2 linked regions of the Homo sapiens genome follow. The protein of the gene in region 2 purifies or fractionates together with the protein of the main gene of each other region. This does not show direct contact. Each region holds a gene or a part of one and is shown on either strand. Other genes may lie near its edges. The genes, in order: LARS2 and RBM38.

What was found.
Region 1: the proteins of RBM38 (region 2) and LARS2 purify together in Homo sapiens (co-immunoprecipitation; one large-scale study listed by IntAct). This does not show direct contact.

The regions. Positions count from the first base shown.
Region 1 is NC_000003.12:45,493,011-45,496,817, reverse strand, and holds part of LARS2 (leucine--tRNA ligase, mitochondrial), read right to left. Parts: intron 1,575-3,807; exon of another isoform or gene 1,318-1,574; intron 544-1,317; coding exon 445-543; intron 1-444.
Region 2 is NC_000020.11:57,390,238-57,394,489, reverse strand, and holds the start of RBM38 (RNA-binding protein 38), read right to left. Parts: upstream 3,095-4,252; 5' UTR 2,909-3,094; coding exon 2,672-2,908; intron 2,212-2,671; exon of another isoform or gene 2,094-2,211; coding exon of another isoform or gene 1,998-2,093; exon of another isoform or gene 1,837-1,997; coding exon 1,713-1,836; exon of another isoform or gene 1,434-1,712; intron 1,212-1,433; coding exon 1,157-1,211; intron 1-1,156. UniProt on the Homo sapiens protein: RNA-binding protein that specifically bind the 3'-UTR of CDKN1A transcripts, leading to maintain the stability of CDKN1A transcripts, thereby acting as a mediator of the p53/TP53 family to regulate CDKN1A.

The sequences.
Region 1 (3,807 bases), on a different chromosome or scaffold from region 2:
GTGCACAGTTGACTGACAGCTTCCAGCTGCTGCATCTGTGGACCCACTCTGGTGTGTTCCTGCCAGCCCATGTTGCTCTCCCAGGCTGCTCCCAGGAGAGTAGAGGGAGGGGCTGGAGCAGAGCCATTTTAGCCTGACTGTAAGACTCTAATGGACAAGCTTTGCTTGGGCCTTCCCACTGGCCAGGTCGAGGCTTTCTCAGAGTTGTGCTGTGGGCTGAGGCTCCTCCACCTGATCCTCCTTCCTTTCCCTTCTCCTTTCACACCTGTCACAGCTCCATCGTGGTCTAAGAGCACTCTCTGCCCACTCCTCCTCTTCTCCCCTTTAATCTGCACAGGCATTTCCCCCCAAGAAATCTCTTGCATGTCTAATTCCATCTTGGTCTTTGCTTCTAGGAGGAGCCACACTGACAAATGCTCAAAGACATCAGCAGGGACGTTTTACCTGTGTGGATTATGAGGGTCAGTGTATCTGAAGTAGTACCAAGCAGAATCAACAAAGGTATCCATCGTGTCTGTCTCTCTCTTGGCTGCTCCCTTGCACCTAAGAAAGAAATGAAATTCATCAATTGGTTTCTTTTTAAATTTTAATGCAGTTTTCCATCAGCTTTTGAGAGAGCTATAAGTATGAATTTAAAATGTCATAAGAATAAAGCCACAGGCTGGGTGTGGTGGCTCACGCTTGTAATCCCAGCACTTTGGGAGGCTGAGGTGGGTGGATCACGAGGTCAAAAGATCGAGACCATACTGGCCAACATGGTGAAACCCCATCTCTACTAAAAATACGAACAATTAGCTGGGCGTCGTGGCGTGTGCCTGTAGTCCCAGCTACTTGGGAGGCTGAGGTAGGAGAATGGCTTGAACCCGGGAGGTGGAGGTTGCAGTGAGCCAAGATCGTGCCATTGCACTCCACCCTGGTGACATAGCAAGACTCTGTCTCAAAAAAAAAAAAGAATAAAGCCACATATGAAAAGACAATTCAGGGAAAGCTCTCTTTTTATATTGTATAGTATGCGATGTTTTAAAGAAATTTATTTACAAATAAAAGTTTCAATTTTCAACAATTAAAAGCCTTATTTTCCACTTCTCTGAATTTAACCTGGTAGAAAGCCTCACCATCCAAAAGGACAAGACAGGATTAGGTATCTCTTTTGTGCCTTAACTTCTGTTCCAGGCATGTCAAGATTGCCTTCGCCAATGCCTACTTTATGATGCTTATGAAGCCAATCAATGCATGAAGACAAATGAGAACCAAATATAGGGAGATGTGTGGAAAATCAACTTGGATTTTTCTTCTACTTCTGTTCTGGGGTGACAGGTGCAGAAATCTACCAGGATGACTCGAGGAAGACAAACCAACTTGGAAGCCCCAAAGGCAATGGTTGCTCCAGCTCATGCCAGCCTGTAAGAATCAATTGGGGCATCTCTTCACAACACTGTGACAAAAGATGGCAAGTTGGTAGCTTGAAACTGGCCCTGATGGGAGTATGTACATCACGGAAATTGGCAAATGCTAGAAATCAGGACCCCCCTCCAAAGCTAATTACATATCTACCATGAGACCACTGCCTAAAGGTAGGTTCCTTATGGAAGAGTGAAGAAAGCCCTGGTGTTCAAGACAGAGAATAAAGTGAGATCCTTGATATGTGAAGGGTTGCATAGAAAAAGGAATCCCTGTCCTAGGGACAGACATGTCCAGCAGGACCAAGGTCTCACAAGGGCCCAAGTGTTACACTCATTATTTTTATTTTGAGATGGAGTCTGGCTCTGTCACCTGGGCTGGAGTGCAGTGGCTCGATCTCAGCTCACTGCAACCTCTGCCTCCTAGGCTCAAGCAATTCTCCTGCCTCAGCCTCCTGAGTAACTGGGATTACAGGTGCATGCCATGATGCCCGGCTAATTTTTGTATTTTTAGTAGAGATAGGGTTTCACCATGTTGGCCAGGCTGGTCTCGAACTCTTGACCTCAAGTGATCCGCCTGCCTCAGCCTCCCAAAGTGCTGGGATCACAGGCATGAGCCATCATGCCCAGCTGCTACACTCATTCTTAAGAACATTCCTAGAGTTGTGGGCCTGTGGGACTGAAGGAACCAGGTGCCAAAAGCCACACTACCTAGGAACTCAAAAGAAGGTGCCCTTAGTCAAGCCTAGCACAGGACGGGGATTAGCTGCCTTGGAGACTCCTCAAGGCCTGGATCAGCAGAGAACCAGCACCTTCTGTCTGATGGGTAGGACCAGCTATCAACAGGGCCTTCTGTGGCAGTGGGAAGCCATAGCAGGCTCTCCCTTCTAAGGCATGGATGTGAAGCTCATCGCCCCTCCAAATATTGCGCTTTGGGCAGTGTAAGTCTTTGGGTGTTATTGGAGAATTTGGGGAGAAGGGATGAGGAATCCCAAGAGGAACTGATAAATCTTCTGCTAATTTAGCATGTATGGGCTTGAGTGTATTTTTAATTTAAGAATAAAAGAAGGGTTGTATTTCTGTCTTCCATTTGTGAAGTAGTTCATACCAGCTTTACAAATATTACCCAAGGAAATGGCCAGTCCCCCACATAGTCCTCCAGCTCCCTCGTCAGCTGGTTAAATGCAGTGGCTGAGCAGAGAGCATGGGCGCCCTAGATCTGGCAGGGCTTTGGGACCCCCTGCATTTTAATCAGGGGACCTCCCAATGAGAACAGTGGTGGTCTCTAAGAGTAGAAGCTTTTCAGAGAGAGCCCTCGGGGAACCCAGCTTCCTACCACCCAGGGCTGCTCTAAGAAGCTGATCTCAACAGTGCGCCTCTAAATTGAAGCCAGGTCTTTTTATTTGGAGAGCAATCAACCAGAACACAGACACTACTTTGGGAAATAATTAGAAAATAAAGATTACTTCATCTTCCTCACTTACCTTGTGCAAGTGAGGTCCAAGTGAGGGAGAAAATGCGGGCTCAATTTATAAAAGGAATAACAGCTGGCTAACATTTGCCATGCTGATTTCCTTTTTAATGGTCTTGTTGGACTTGAAGGCAACTAACATGTTTTATTGCTGATACTAAAAACTAGATGATAAGGAAGAAGCTACGTGGCAAGCAGGAGGGATAGAAGTGATAGATAATGGTGATAATGTTATCAGGATTAGCTCCAATAGTAATAATAATAATACTGGGTAGTAGGAACTGAGCCAAGTACCGCAGAAGTATTATCTCATTTAATCCCCAGTAGCCCTGGGGATTATGAGACCGATACTGCTCATATCCCCATTTTTCAGATGAGTAACTAGGATTCAGAGAGGTTAAGAACCTTGTCCAAGGTCTTGTAGTTCAAGGGTAAGGAATCCACATCTGGTGGGCTCTGGTGCCTGTAGTCTGTACCACTGGGCTGCCTTGCTCGGCCACACTGGCTCAGTAGCTCTCAGCCTTGGATGCTCATTAAGATCATCCAGGGGCTGGGCGTGGTGGCACACGCCTGTAATCCCAGCACTTTGGGAGGCCTAGGCGGGCAGAACACGAGGTCAGGAGATGGAGATCATCCTGGCTAACACGGTGAAACCCCATCTCTACTAAAAATACAAAAAATTAGCCGGGCTTGGTGGCGGGCACCTGTAGTCCCAGCTACTCGGGAGGCTGAGGCAGGATAATGGTGTGAACGCGGGAGGTGGAGCTGGCAGTGAGCCGAGATTGCACCACCGCACTCCAGCCTGGGCGACAGAGCGAGACTCCATCTCAAAAAAAAAAAAGATCATCCAGGGAGCCTTGCCCAACACCAAGGCCTAGGTTCTGCCCTCCAGTAATTCTGCAGCCAAGCAGGAAACCTTATCCTCATCAATAAGGC
Region 2 (4,252 bases):
GCGGCTCCTCCCACTGCTACACTTGCACACATCCACCAATACACACGGAAGCCGGCAGGGAGCCCCCGAGTCACCCCAAGCGTTCCCAAAAAGTGGGCACAGCAACTTCTGCTGGGGCCTCTGACCCATTCACCTGGGAGCCAGGCCCCAGGGGACCCATTCACCTGGGAGCCAGGCTCAGCCGGGTTCCACAGGATCCTTGTCCACACTGCCCCAGTCAGGCAGGTTACTCCTCAAGCTGTGTCTCTCTCAATGGAATCTACGTGGTGCGCACATGCGTGAGCACACACACGTGATCAACTGGCATTAGGGATTTGGATTCAGAAAGTTCATGAAGTGCCAATGCCCTGAAAGGGGTGGTGGTCTCTGAGCTGCCTTCCCCTCCAACTCCAACCCCATCAATATGCCACGGCGCTAGGGCAGACAGCTTCCATCCATCATGGGGGTGGGGAGGCAGGCCGCAAGGCAGGACTCTTTGTATCCCTTAAGTGTGTGTGTCCCTCCCCAAGCAGCTGCCAGGACTTACTAGATGTTTTAAAAAAGGGCAGGGAGGTGGGAGGCGTTTTAGGATGGAGAAGAGTGGGCTGCGCTGCTTGTAAATGAGTCAGACTAGAAGCCCATAGGCCAGGCCACTCAGGCAGGTGGCCTCCACCCCAAACACATCGTATCTACAGCAACGTTCACAAACATCAGACCTTGGTAGCAATGACCTACTGCCACCACCTGCCCCAGCACTAGAACAGGTGAGAGGAGTGCCTGGGGAAGAACTCAGCCTGCCAGTCCCTAAGAGTCATCAGCAAACACTTCAAGAGGGCGTTACCTGCACCAGGCCCACCCTAGGCCCTCCATTCAGAGAACTCAGATGTGCTGTGACCACTCCCATTTTACGGGTGAGGAAACTGAGGCCACACACCTAGCGAAGGGAGCTGGGGTGTGTACCAAGGCAGGCAGGCTCCAAGGCTCACCATCCCCTAGGTGGTATGGCCTCTGCCAGGGATGGAGAAGTGCAATCTGCCTTCTCTTCACTCCCTTGGCTTAAACGCAATCAAATGTCTGAAAACTGTCATTTCCCCAGCCTTCCAGACCCAGGAAGCCCAAGGCCCTCTCCACTTCATCTCCACGGACTACCCACCCCAAGCCAGCCATGTCCACTCACCCGTAAGTCCGCTGGATCAAGGTGGGGTGCAGCTGCTGCACCCCAATGGCAAAGCCTAAAACGAGAGAACAATCAGGGACTTGGCCTTGCTGCACGAGCCACGTCTCAAGGGCTGCACACAGGGTGGCAGAATCCCACAAGCCACACACCTCTAGTCAAAAGGGATCATCCGCTTCCTCTCCCCTCCCAGGCCTCCCCCTTGTGAACCCCAAGGCACACCGCTGAAGTGTGGCAGTGAGTGACGCAGGTGTCAGCAGCCACTGGTGTCGGCACTCCCAACCTCCAGGCCCCATGGCCACTTCCTCCCTCCTGCGAGGACAGCTGGCAACTGGGGTGCAGTACCCTCCCTGCCCCCCGCCCCCTTCTTTGGGCCACACGCTGTGAGAAGGGGTCTAGATCCTCGAGGGGGGGATGGCTGCCCTGTGCCGGCTCTGCAGGCACATGATAGCCGACTGCCACTGCTGGGGCGAGGAGGGGGGGCCTCTTTCCACCCGACAGATACCGACACCCAATATAGAAACCGAGAAGAGCCAGGCAGGAAAACACAAGCTCTCACCCGTCTGGAGGCTCCGCGGCTTGGCGCCCAGATATGCCAGGTTCACGTTGGCCTTGCGGCCGTCGATGATGGGGTTCGGGTCTTTGCAAGCCCTCTCAGCTGCCGCCCGGTCGGCCATGGTCACCTGGTGGAGCAGAGACACATCAGGGGCTGCCGTGGGGGGAACCAGGGGCGAAAGGGGCAGACGGCTCCGCCCTGGCACCGGATGCTGCCACCCCTCTCTTCCCTTCCTCTGAGGGTGCCTGTGACCCAGGGTCCTTGAGCCAAAGCTCCTCTGAACCCTACCTGGGGCTCTCCCACAAAGATGCCTCCTGGATTCCAGCTCCTCCCGTCAAAGTTCAAGGCCTGGGAAATGTGGCCTTCAAGGACAAAAATAATCCCCTGCGGGGATAGGGCAAAAATGAACCCCGAAGGGAGCTTGGGGGGCCGCCTGGACTTGCCCACCAGTGAGGGCCGAGACTTTCCTCTGAGAAGGAGTTTGCGACGCTATGCTTGGAAGGTAAGCAGGAAAGTGTCTTCAAGACGTTTTTACTTAAGCTGATGTTTATTTGGGGCGGCTGAGAGGGCTGTTAAAAATATGGGGGAGGCCGAAGAGCTCCTAACACCCCGGGGTGGAGCCATTGCTCCTCACCCCCCGCTGCTCCAGGAAATCCCGAGTGCCCTCTGGCTCCAAAACCTCCCCACCAACTTAGGAGTCCTAATTGAACACAGCGGCTCTTCCTTTTAAACCGGGGGTGGGGGTGGGGGTGGGGGTGGGGGTGGGGGCCGGGGCCTGGGGTGGTGGGGGCGGGACCGGCAGGAGCGCGCCCGGGAGAGGCGGCAGGTGCGGGCGCCGGCTGGAGGCGCCTGGGGCGGGGGCGGCAGCGGGCCGTCTGGGCGTGTGCCCCGGAGTGGACTCGGCGCCCGGGCCGCGATAAGGTGTGCGGCGGGGTGCGGGCCCGGGCGCGGGGGCCACTTACGAAGCCGTAGCCGCGGGACTTGCCCGTCTGGCGGTCGGTGATGACCACGGCCTCCTCGATGTCGCCGAAGCCCTCGAAGTACTTCCTGAGCGAGGCGTCGGTAGTGTGGTACGGCAGGCCGCCCACGAAGATCTTGGTGAACGTGGTGTCCTTCTGCGAGCCGTGCATGGCGCCGGGGGCGGCCAGGGGCCGCGGGAAGCCCGCGCTCGGGGCGCACGGCGCGGGCTGCAGCAGCATGGGGGGCGCCCCGCCGCCTACGGACCCGGGCCGCGCGGGGCTGCGCTCATGGGGGGCGGCGGGGAGCGCGCGGGGCAGCGAGGGGCGCCCGTCCAGCCGCCAGGCCCGACCACTCCGGCGCCCGTCCCGCCGTGCGCGCCGACGTGCGCCGCGCTGCGCTCCCGACCGGCGCTGCGGGGACTCTGCGCCCCGGCACCGCCCCCGGGCTTTGTAGCCTGCCGCCCCCGCCAGCTCAGCCCCGCCCCCAGCCGGCCCCGCCCCGCCCCGGGCGCGCGGGGACCGCCGGGAAGCGTAGTTCTAACCCCGCCCAGCCGCACCCGGGCGCGCGGCGATTGGGGGGAGGGGGGAGGGGAGCGCACGCGGGCTGAGGGCGGATCCGGGCCTGGGGGCGCTGGGCGCGCCTTTCTCTCCTGGCTGCCCCCGCGGGCCCGGCCGGTTGCAGGCACTAAGCACAACCCTGAACTAGGGAGGCCAGGCCCCTTCCCTCGTGGAGCGCACCGTCTGGTGAATTAAACGTAAAAAACGTAAAAAAACGTAAACGGTTTTTAGCATCTTGTTAATTGAGTCGGTATTTAACCCAGGGCGACTTAGGGAAGAGCCACGTGCCATATTAAAAAAGGGAAATGATTTCTGTTTTATATGTAAGATTAGTTCATCCGACCGATATTTACTCTGGGCGCGAGGCTGCAGCGGAGCACAGATCATATTCCCTGGCCCCACGGAGCGTCCAGGACTGAGAATTCGGCTAGTAAACATACAGCATACGACCCCGGAGGGAGCTACACCACGGTGCCGCGATAGAAGCGGGTCCCGGGCGGTCTCAGAGGCCCCGCGGGAGATGAGGTGGGCAGAGGAAGCAGGTGTGGGCTCTTTCCAGCTCCACCCCGTTCTGGGCTGGTGTCAGGGACCCTTGGGGCGAGTAAGAGCAGACCCGGGTCCCTCATCCGGCCCCCAGCCATAGAAAGGCGGCGCATAGTGGGGCTCTGTGAGCTTCACACCAGGCAGGGCCAGCCACAGAATTTTCGGGGCCCAGTGCAAAATGCAAACGCGGGGCCCCTTATTCAAAAGCTAGGAATTTCAAGTTGGCAGCGGTTGAGCATGAAACTCAGCCCCGGGCTTTCCTGAGCGAAGGGAAGGGCCGTGTGACTGCACAGACCCCGGGATCCCGGACCTGCGGGTCACACCCTCCACCTCTGAAGCCGGGACTAGGGGCCTCAAGCCCGCCTCATCTCCAGCCCCCGCGGTTGGGACCTATGCAGCTGGGAAACAGCAGCTCTAATTGGGGTCACTCCCGGCCCCAGCCCTGCGGCCTCCTCTCAGCACAGGGCGACGCAGGTGGGGTCT